2 separate regions of the Homo sapiens genome follow, and region 1 is linked to region 2. Evidence: fine-mapped expression QTL. A gene starts in region 2. The other region holds a variant in brackets. All regions are shown on one strand. Distances are from middle to middle.

Evidence for each region. PIP is the estimated chance that this variant, and not a neighbour inherited with it, causes the effect. A credible set is the group of variants that fine-mapping cannot tell apart.
Region 1: its variant is the best candidate, but not a certain one, in a credible set for the expression of CCND3 in whole blood (INTERVAL, PIP 0.77).

The regions. Positions count from the first base shown.
Region 1 is chr6:41,830,130-41,835,503 of GRCh38, forward strand. The region is part of intron 3 of USP49 (ubiquitin specific peptidase 49); the gene reads right to left. It overlaps LOC124900222 (small nucleolar RNA SNORA8), which reads left to right and starts at 2,725; the gene lies at 2,725-2,864. The variant G/A (reference allele first, on the strand shown) is at 3,155.
Region 2 is chr6:41,938,647-41,944,020 of GRCh38, forward strand. CCND3 (cyclin D3) reads right to left here and starts at 3,162. Exons shown (of 5, transcript NM_001760.5): 1 at 2,806-3,162; 2 at 1,724-1,939. The coding sequence starts at 3,003. RefSeq lists enhancers at 1-448, 449-1,264, 845-1,139, 2,221-2,350, 2,393-3,344 and a silencer at 2,861-3,310.

The DNA of each region.
Region 1 (5,374 bases), 110 kb before region 2:
TTCTTATAATATACTGACCTTCCCTGTTTTGTACCAAGATTATACTAACCTCAAAACCTGAGATAGCAGCTTTCCCACTTTATCTCTTCTCTAAAACAGTTTAATTCTTCTATGGTTTATCTGTTCCATGAAGGTCTGATAAAACTTACCTGTAAACCTGTCTCATCTAGGCATTTTGTAGGATTGTTTCAATGTTTAATATAGCTAAGTTCAGATGAAGATCCAAAAATCCTCCCAGTGATCACAGGTCTCCAAGTCTTGGGAAATTATGCCTTGGTAACCTAGTGTCTACTTTAACCCCTACAGAAATTCCATATAAGTTTATACTTTTGAAAATAAATAAATAGTATGTTAATGACAGACAATGATGGAGCAAACAAAACAGATTTGCAACCAATTCAAATTTAGGAAAGCAGGCCAGGCGTGGTGGCTCACACCTGTAATCTCAGTACTTTGGAAGGCCAAGCCAGTGGATCACCTGAGGTTAACCAGTTCGAGACCAGCCTGGCCAACATGGTGAAACCCCATCTGTACTAAAAATACAAAAATTAGCTGGGCATGGTGGTGCATACCTGTAATCCCACTCAGGAGGCTGAAGCAAGAGAATCACTTGAACCTGGGAGGTGGCGGTTGCAGTGAGCCAAGATCGCACCACTGCACTCCAGCCTGGGCAACAGAGCAAGACTCCGTCTCAAGAGAAAAAAAAAAAATTTAGGAAAGCAGCACGAAGCACCAGTGCTGACTGGCCAAGAGATTGTTATACACTGGTGCTACCTGTACAGGCTGATTGATAGGAACCTCCACACAAGATAACCTGCATTGTCACTATAAAAGGTAGAGCTATCGACTGGGATTGGTGACTCATGCCTGTAATCCCAGCACTTTGGGAGGCAGAGGTGGGCAGATCACCTGAGGTCAGGAGTTCAAGACCAGCCTGGCTAACATGGTGAAACCCCGTTTCTACTAAAAATACAAAAAATTGCCAGGCGCAGTGGCTCACGCCTGTAATACCAGCACTTTGGGAGGCTGAGGCGGGCAGATCACGAAGTCAGGAGTTTAAGACCAGCCTAACCAACATGGTGAAACCCCGTCTCTACTAAAAATACAAAAATTAGCCGGGCGTGGTGGCATGCACCTGTAACCCCAGCTACTCAGGAGGCTGAGGCAGGAGAATCGCTTGAACCCAGGGGGTGGAGGTTGCAGTGAGCCGAGATTGTGCCGCTGCACTCCAGCCTGGGCAACAGAGCGAGACTCCATCTCAAAACAGAAATAAAAATAAAAATAAATAAAAATACAAAAAATTAGCTGGGCGTGGTGGTGCGCACCTGTAATCCCAGCTACTCGGGAGTCTGAAGCAGGAGAATTGCTTGAACCCAGGAGGCAGAGGTTGCAGTGAGCCGAGACCGTAACATTGCACTCCAGCTTGGGCAACAAGAGCAAAACTCCATCTCAAAAAAAAAAAAAAAAAAAGTAGAGCTACCATTTTTGAAATAAACTAATCATTTTTCTTCACCACTAACTCTCTTGAGCTTCTAAATCCATACTGCACATTAAACATTACTCCAAACTAAAATTAAAACCACCACCACAACAACCCATAACCTCCGCTTTTAATGGGCTGTCTGTATGATAAAGTCCAAGTTCCTCAGACAGACCTTCAAAAGTATCACATACAATCTGACCCCAAACAAGCTTCTCATATTATCTCCCACCCTTTCTTTGTGTCCAAACAACCAGATGGACTGGTCTACTCACTATTTCTTCAGACGTCCCAAGAACAGTCAATTCCTTGAGATGCTATCCTTCCTCTTCTGTACTAACCCTCAAAAGCCAGCTTAGGTCCTGTCCTTTTTTAAAGGCTTTTCCTGACCATTCTACTACCCAGTGAATCTCTCCCTCAAAGAACACCTCATTGTTCACAGTCCTCAATTGTTTTATCTGGTTTACTAACCATAGTCCAAACTCCTTAAGGCAAAGTCTGTACTGTTTTTTTTTTACCATTCACCCCCTGCACAAGGCTCTTGATATAAAGAACTAAGAACTTGACCCCAAATCTTTCCTGGGCATCTTTTACTCATGTTACCTGATAGTCTTGATTTGTAATTCTAGGTGGAGCTGCTTCCCTTTGATAAATTAACTGAACAGAGACAATTATCTTCTGAAATTCTGTGATGATAGCTCATTTAACCTATTCTCTCCCAGTTCTAGCTCCTTTACAGGGCACTATGTAAGACTATCATGCTTTCCTAGCTACATATGTATGTACTGGCAAATGCCTAAGTCCTAGTATAAACAAAATTGGGTATGTGCAGGCAAAAAAGTCAAATGTTTAAAAAGACTTGGCTTTCAATAAACAGCTCACACACATGGTGTGTTGCTTGCAAAGAGAAAAAACAAGCACGGTAAGGATGCCATTTTTAATGGCTCCCAAAAATATGACATACTTAAACGTGTTTTTTTCCAACTAGAAACCTGGTGTTATTATGAGGACTGGGTTGTTCAAGGATACCAGCGTCCATGAAAGGGTATTTTTGGCAAGCACTTTATCACTAGAAATTAGTCAAAAAAAAATTTTCTGAGCACTCGCCTACAATATACCAAACACTATGCTTTAGGTGTAGAAATCAGCCAAAACAAGATTAGGCAACATTACAAAAATATCAACTAACTAAAATGATTGACTAATTGGATGTCTTAAATCTTAAAACACTAGAATAATTTAATTGCATTGCCATGGTATCTGCACTCAGTAGTTTATTCCTGCTGGGTGTCCAAAGATCAGTGCCATAGAAATTCAGTATCTAGCATCACTGATTTTCTTGGCTTTGTGCTTGTTAAAACTTGGTATTTCTATTGACACAGTATTTCTTTTTTTCTTTCTTTCTTTTTTCTTTTTTTTTTTTTTGAGACAGAGTCTCGCATTGTTGCCCAGGCTGGAGTGCAGTGGCGCGTCCCCGGCTCACTGCAACCTCCACCTCCCAGGTTTACACCATTCTCCTGCCTCAGCCTCCCGAGTAGCTGGGACTACAGGTGCCCGCCACCATGCCCGGCGAATTTTTTGTATTTTTAGTAGAGATGGGGTTTCACCGTGTTAGCCAGGATGGTCTCGATCTCCTGACCTCATGATCCGCCCGCCTCGGCCTCCCAAAATGCT[G/A]GGATTACAGGTGTGAGCCACCACGCCCGGCCTTGACACAGTATTTCTGTAGTTCTATAGTTTCCTCATACTGTTCAGATTCATATAGTCTTCAATAGCAGCTAGAAAAAACTCACTAAGAATAAATATAATCAAATATTTCTTTTATTCTTTTGCTTCTCAGTAAATGTTTTCTCATTAATTCTCAGTAGAAATAATTTCAGAATTATAATAATAAAGTATTTAAGCACTGACAGGAAACGCTACTCCAATAACTTCTTCCATACTCGAACAATTTTTGAAAGATTTTAGAAAAGTGATTCTAATTTGAAATTCAAATAGTGCAAATAAATCCATGTAAAATAACTATACCAAACCTTCTCTCTCAGTAGTTCTTATTGGTATGGGTAAAAATATAGGTTAAAATAAGGCAAAGGTGGACAAGATTATCACAGCATGTGTGTAAGATTTCTGAAATGTAAGAAGTAGTAGCAAGATTTCTGGACCCTAGAAAGGGCCAAATGATGAGGTTTGGGGTGATAGTACATTTGGAAAACCCTATTTATTAACCTAGTCCACACTATTCAGCATGTGATTTCAAATCTGTCTTGGCAGTTTATCTACGAAGCTGTTGCTGAATTCTGCCCTTTTGGCAAAACACTTCCAATGTTGGTAAAGTGAGCACAAAACTAGAAAACATGTTGAGTATATTAAGTGGGTCCACTTTGTTTAAAACTTTAAACAAAGCTTTCACCTGTACACATATTTGAATAGCTAAGAACATTGAAACATGCACGCCCATCACTAGGAAGAAATCAAAGTAGGCAACTAAAGGAAATTTGTCCTATTTAAAGTTCTCATGAGTTCTTCTGCAGTATGGGGCATTCTTGGGTCTCTGATGTCCTTGAGATGTCTGACCTATGATTCTCTAGTTAATAACTACCAATTCCATTCCTATGATACCCATACTTTACCTCACTCTATCATAACATCGAGCACTGAGCACTATCTAAAAAGTCTCTCATGCTGTTGAGAAAATGGAAACAATGATTATACAATAATAACAGCAATAAAAATTAGTAAAGAACATCAAGTATCAGGTATTTTTCATATCTTCTCTAGTCCTAAAATGCCCAGACACTATTATCCCGATTTTATATATGAGGATCTTGAATATCAGAGAGGGTAAATGATATGGTTTGGATCTGTGTCCCCACCAAATCTCATGTTGAATTGTAATCCCCAGTGTTGGAGGTGGGGCCTGGTGGGAGGTGACTGGATCAAGGGGGCAATTTCTCATGAATGATTTGGCACCATCCTCTTGAAGCTGTTCTTGTGATAGTGTGTTCTCACGAGATCCAGTTGTTTAAAAGTGTGTAGCACCTCAACATTCTCTATTTTGCTCCTGCTCCAGCCATGTAAGATGTGCCTGCTTCCCCTTCACCTTCCGCCATGATTGTAGTTTCCTGAGGCCTCCCCAGAAGCAGATGCCACTATGCTTCCTGCAGAATCATGAGCTGATTAAACCTCTTTTCTTTGTAAATTACCCAGTCTCAGGTATTTCTTTATAGCAATGTGAGAATGGACTAATACAGTAAGTATTCTCAAGAACACTCACATAGAAAATAGCTGAGTCAAGGTTCCAGCTCAGTACTGCCTATCTTCAGTTTTTATAATATATGATTGTATTCAAGAAATAGGAAAGAAAAAAATAATGTTAAGAGTAGAAGTGGAGAGATGGTAATAAGGAAAGAAGACTGATGATTCTTAAGGAGATGAATCACTCTAAGCCCAAACCACCACTAGTCTTCAATCTGGGTCTCTACCCACCATCAAAGGGGCAATCATTAGGTTAGAGAACACAGCTTGCTTACCACTGGGTGCTGTGTCTTATATTTGCTTGGTATATCCCAGAGGGGAAAAGACTTAATAATGACTTTTGGATGGGTGGATGAGATGGAAGGATGACAAACGCACATTTAGCATGCAAAGGAGTCTTTAGCCAACTTAAACGAATGCTCATGCCATTAACATTTCCATTACAAGATTCTGAAATGCAGTCATGAAAGCCAATTTAATTGCAATTTAGATTTGCTAGGTTAGTCAAGTATGGAAAATGGAAGGAATTGGGAAGTAAACACAACTGTTATTTTAAGAACTGGAAAATCTGGCCGGGTGCAGTGGCTCACGCCTGTAATCCCAGCACTTTGGGAGGCCGAGGTGGGTGGATCACGAGGTCAA
Region 2 (5,374 bases):
AGGCAACCAGAGAATCCCAGTGTTAACTGGTGGAGAACACACCCCTGGGAGTGCTTAGCTTCAGTAGGTGGCAGCGGCCATCACATTCCTGACTTTTAAGGCAACCTGGTCTAGCTAGAAGACCCAGGTTCTACACTCATCTGCTCAGTGCGATGCTGAGGCAGGACCTTGCCCTCCTTCCTTGGGCCTCAGCCTCCTCTGCTGCACACGGATTTGGACCAACTGGAGTTCTCAGAGGTCCCTTCCAACCTTGACCTTCTAGGAAGTCTTTTGGGCACTCCACCCCCAGCTCAGGCAGAGGGAAGAGTACTTTTTGCCTGTACTGAAAAACCCTCATACGTGGGCACACAAACCACCTCCATCTTTTCACAAAAAGGAAGTTCCCCTTCTACCTTCCAGCCCCAACCCCTCCAAAAACATCTTGCTCTCTGGCCCTGGAAACTAGCTCCACCTTCAGACTTGCCAAAAACTACCAGATTCATCACAAAGAGCTGTGGCGCCTCCTGGATTCCCAACTCTGGCCTCCTACTCCCATCTCTGAGCTACTTGGCAGGAAGAGGAATCCTGTTCCTCGACTCACAGCAGTCGGGGGCCCCAGTACCCTGGCTTCCCTGCCAGCCAATCACAGCAGCCTGCTTGCTGCCCTCCTCCCTGGGAGATGGGGCCCAGAGACTCCTCTCAGGGTCAGCAGAAGACTTGGCCCGCCACAGAGCAAGGTGGAGGAAGGTGCCAGCTCACCCACCCTCTCCCCCAGCCTCCCTAGGAGACAATCTGCATGTCCTAAATAACCTCTTCCAGATCCAGCAGCTCCCCCGCCTCCTCCCCAGGCTCCTTCTGAGGCGGGACAGAACCGGTGACTTTCCTGCCCGGCCTGAGCCCAGCCCAAGTTTCCAGCAAGAGGCCCAGGGAGCCACTTCCCAAACCACAGGAGTGACAGCAGCTCCCCACAGGGTTATGAAAGACCTTGGTCAGAGAGGGCGGGCCAGGGGAGGGGGCACCATTATCACATCGGAAGCAGATGCAGCTCACCTCCCTGTCTGTCCCTCAGCTTGGGCCTTGGGCTAAGGGGGGAAGAGGGAGCTGTTTCCACCAGGCCCAAAGCAGCTGCTCCAGTTCCTCAGAATGAGGACGAGGAAGGATTAGGAAGAAGCTGTTTCTTCCGGGATATAAGAGGAAGCAAAGAAGGTGGGATGAAATACATCAGCCCTTCCTTAAAGCAATCAGGGCCTGGCTTTAATTGGCTCTGGGAGGCTTTTCTATCACAAAGTCCACATGAGGATAAAGACTCAACCAAGGCAAAACCCCCTCCCCCACATGAAGCACATTCCACTCCCCTACTCCAGTGGGGGTGTGCAGGCATGCCCTTCTGCTGCCAATAAATAACTCATGGTGGCTGCGTAAACCCAGAGGCAAAGTACTAGTGAGTGTAGACATGCAATTTGACTTGTTGCTATCTGGGGGAAAGACCAGGAAGGAGTGGCATCCCCTGGAGGTCAGGAGGAGGGGGTTTAATGCCTGCCTGCAGCTCAAGCCTGGGCGGGAGTGATACTAACCATCACACCACAATGCCCCATCGTTTGTTCCACCCCAATTCCTTTCCCAAAGGTCCTGATCCCCTTGCTTCCTCTCCAGGGGGCAGAAAGCCTCTGATATCTCAAGCTTTCCTTTTCCTGGAAAGTGGGGAGACAATACGTGTCGGGGGTGGGGGGAGTTACACACGCACCCGCAACTGGCGGGGAGAGACAGCGTGGTCGGTGTAGATGCACAGTTTTTCGATGGTCAGGGGCGTGGTCTCGCGCAGCTTGGAGGCCAGCAGCATGCAGACCGCACCCAGGAGCTGCAACTGCGCCTTTCGGGTGGGGACGCAAGACAGGTAGCGATCCAGGTAGTTCATGGCCAGGGGGAAGACTTCCTCCTCACAGCGCTGCTCCTCACATACCTGGGGGAGGGCGCACAGTCACTGCTGGGTCTGGAGCGTGGGGAACACAGCAGCGGGGGGGTGGGAGCGCTGAAGTGAGGTGGGATAGGGAGCAAAAACGGCAGAGAGGGTAAGCTACTTAGAGAGACAAGGACCAATAAAGGAGGAGGATGCGCCCTCCCCAAGGTGACGCCCCCCACTTCCTCTGCGCGGCCTCCTCCCCTCTCCCCTTGACGGGGGAGTGGTAAAGCCAAGGAGCCCTTGCTCACGGAGGATTCCAAACGGAGACTCCCCTCCCCCACAGCGAGGGGAAGTGGGACGCAAGGGTCACCCATGGTAGCCAGAGAGCTGGGACCTCACCCCCATCACCGCCACCACTGCACACACCCGAGGGGAAGGGAGGAGGCTCCTGCCGCTGCCTCCTGCACTTTTCATTTCCCTGTCGGCCGGAACAGGGCGCGCGCCACCCCCATCGCCTTCCCCGCCAGAACCCCGCGAAAGACACAGGAACCGGCTCCCGGGCGGGGGCGGCCGAGCCCAGGGTTTTCCAGGCGCGCTCTCCGGAGAAGGCCGGGAGGCGGAGGGAAGCGGGAGACGCTGTGAGAAGCCGAAGGGGAGAGAGTGTCCTTGGTCCCGTTTGCTCGGCCCGAAGAGAGGCACAGTTAGGGTGCCAAGTGACTGGCAGTCACTGTCGGGAGGAGCCGATTAGGGCTCGGGAAAGCAAGGGAGGCAGCTGGCGTGGGTGCCCTAGTGAAAGGCCAGGCCCCGGGAGTCTTAGCCTCGGAGCATCCTGCAGATTGCTGTGGGGACCGGGATGTCCCGACAGGGCGGCCCCGGTGTGTCCAGACCCGGGAGCGGTGGGGGAGGGGGACGCGTCCGGGCGGTACCTCCAGCATCCAGTAAGCCAGCATCTTCCGCATGTGCGGCTTGATCTCCCGCTGCACGCACTGGAAGTAGGAGGCGCGGGGTACGTAGCGCTCCTCCAGGCGGAGCAGGCTCTGCAGGACACGCTGGTCCCCCAGCAGCCGCGGGTCCGGCCCGGCCCGGGGCGCGTGCCGGGTGCCTTCGCAACACAGCAGCTCCATACTCGGGCAGCGAACAGGCAGGGCGGGAGTGCGGGCTCGCGAGTCCCAAGGCAGGCGACGGGCCGGAGAGCGCGGGGCGCGGGTCTGGCGCTGGCGCTGGCACTGCGCGGCGGATCCCCAGCCCGCCCGCCGCCCGCGCGCGCGCGCCGCTTCCCTGACAGGCGCCCCGCCCCTCGCGACGATGTAGCAACCGTGGAATGCTCGGACGTCGCAACGCTCCGAGGGGCGGGGCTGCGGCGCCCCGGACGGAAAGGGTTGGCTGAGCGCTCTCCCCTCCCTCCCGCGGCCCCATTGGGCCGCTGAGCGCAAGCCGGCCGGCTTCCGGGCACTCCAGGCCCTCTGGACCACCGGGTGCAGAGAACTTTCTAGGAGGTGGGCCTCCTACCCACCCACGGGCCCTCCCATTTTGCTTCTCGGACTCTAGTCACCCAGGAAACAATTTTTCTCCAAAGGTCATTCATTCACTTATTCATTCGTCAAACCCTACTTCACCGGCTGCTTGCTCTAAGGAATGCGATAAATAATGTCAGAGCTAGTTCTTAGTGAACGCTGCTCGAAAGCCTCACGATGTAATGACTCACTACATCTTCACGAAAACTCGGAAACCGAGGCAACTGTCATTCAGTTGGTCCGTGGCAGAGCTAGGATTGGGAAGCTGGCCTTCTTGCTGCAGATTCTGTGTTCTACACCATTGCTAGTTAAACTGTGATCCCAGACCTGTCCCGTGCGTGGTCATCGCCTGGGAGCTGGTTAGAAATGCAGACTCTCAGGCCCACCCCTAACCTGAATCAGAATCTGCATTTTAACTAGATTTCTGTGCACTTTAAAGTATGAGAGCTTTAGTCTAAGTCAGCATATAACAGAACGGAAAGGCCATGGAGTCATGGCCTCACCTTGTTAAGTTGCTTGCCTAGGTTTGGACAAGCCCCTAAAGTCGGCCTTAGTTTCTGTTTGGAGAAACTGTGGACGGAGAAACTAGATTCTCATTGAATCAGTTTCTTGCACAGACTCTGTGAGATCTACCGGTTGCATTTCTTCCACCTCCCAAACTTTTGGTTACTTTGTAGTTTTACCGGAAGCTAGATTCCACTTGACGAAGAGGCCGAAAAAGACCTCCAATAATGCTCCAAATGGGAGGAGGCCATGAGGATCCCTGCCCTACTGGGGTCCTCCTGACTTAGGAGACACTAAGGAAGTGTCTAACCATTTTCTGTTAATTATTCTTTTTTTTTTTTTTTTTTTTTTTTGAGACGAAGTCTCACTCTGTTGCTCAAGCTGGAGTGCAGTGGTGCGATCTGGGCTCACTGCAACCTCCACCTCCCGGGTTCAAGCAATTCCCGAGTAGCTGGGACTACAGGCACGCACCACCATGCCTGACTAATTTTTGTATTTTTCGTAGAGATGGGGTTTCACTATGTTGGCCAGGCTAGTCTTGAACCCCTGACCTCGTGATCCGCCGGTCTCGGCCTCCAAAAGTGCTGGGATTACAGGCGTGAGCCACCGTTCCCGGCCGAATTATTCTTTCTTATATTATAAATTGTATTGTAGTTTTCATATCATAAAATATTCTTTTACATTGTAGAAAACTTCAAAAATACAAATAAGCCACAAAAAAAGGAAATAATCATTTGCAATTTGCCATGAAATAACCCTTTAATATATCAATGTTTATTTTTCTAATCTTTGTTCTATGAATAAACACACATTTTAAATGGAATCATCACAAACTGTTTTGTAAGCTTTTTTCATTAAAAAAATACTGTTAACACTTTTCCATGCTATTAAATATTCTAGGACATAATTTGTAATAGGGACATAATATACCATTAGGTGAATGTACAAAATGTATTTTGGCAAACCTGTATTGGTGGAAATTTAAATTATTTCTAGTTCTTCTCTATTAGACATAATACTGTAAAATATTTTTGTGGTAATATCTTTGTGCACACTCATGATTATTTCTAGAAGTGAATTAATTTCTAGAAGTGGAATTTCCCAATCTAAGGTTATGAAACATTCTAAGGCTTTTGATACACTTCTAATTGCCAAATTTTCCTGCTGAATAGTTAAACCAATCTTTTCCACCATCATTACATATCTATTTTTCAAAACAACTCTGCCAACTAGAGAGTGAAAGTGGCTTATTAGTAATAATAAATCTATTTTGGCATATTACTAGACATTTACATTTCTTATGTACATTACCCATTCATGTCCTTAGCTTATTCATTTATAGGGATGTTTGTTTTCTCTTATTGACTTATAAGTTCTCATCACCTCTCAAAGATATTAACCCTTTTCATATTTTTTGTTTGGTTTTTTAACTTTGGTTATAAAAATTCTTGACATAAATTAATTTTTAAAATCAGTA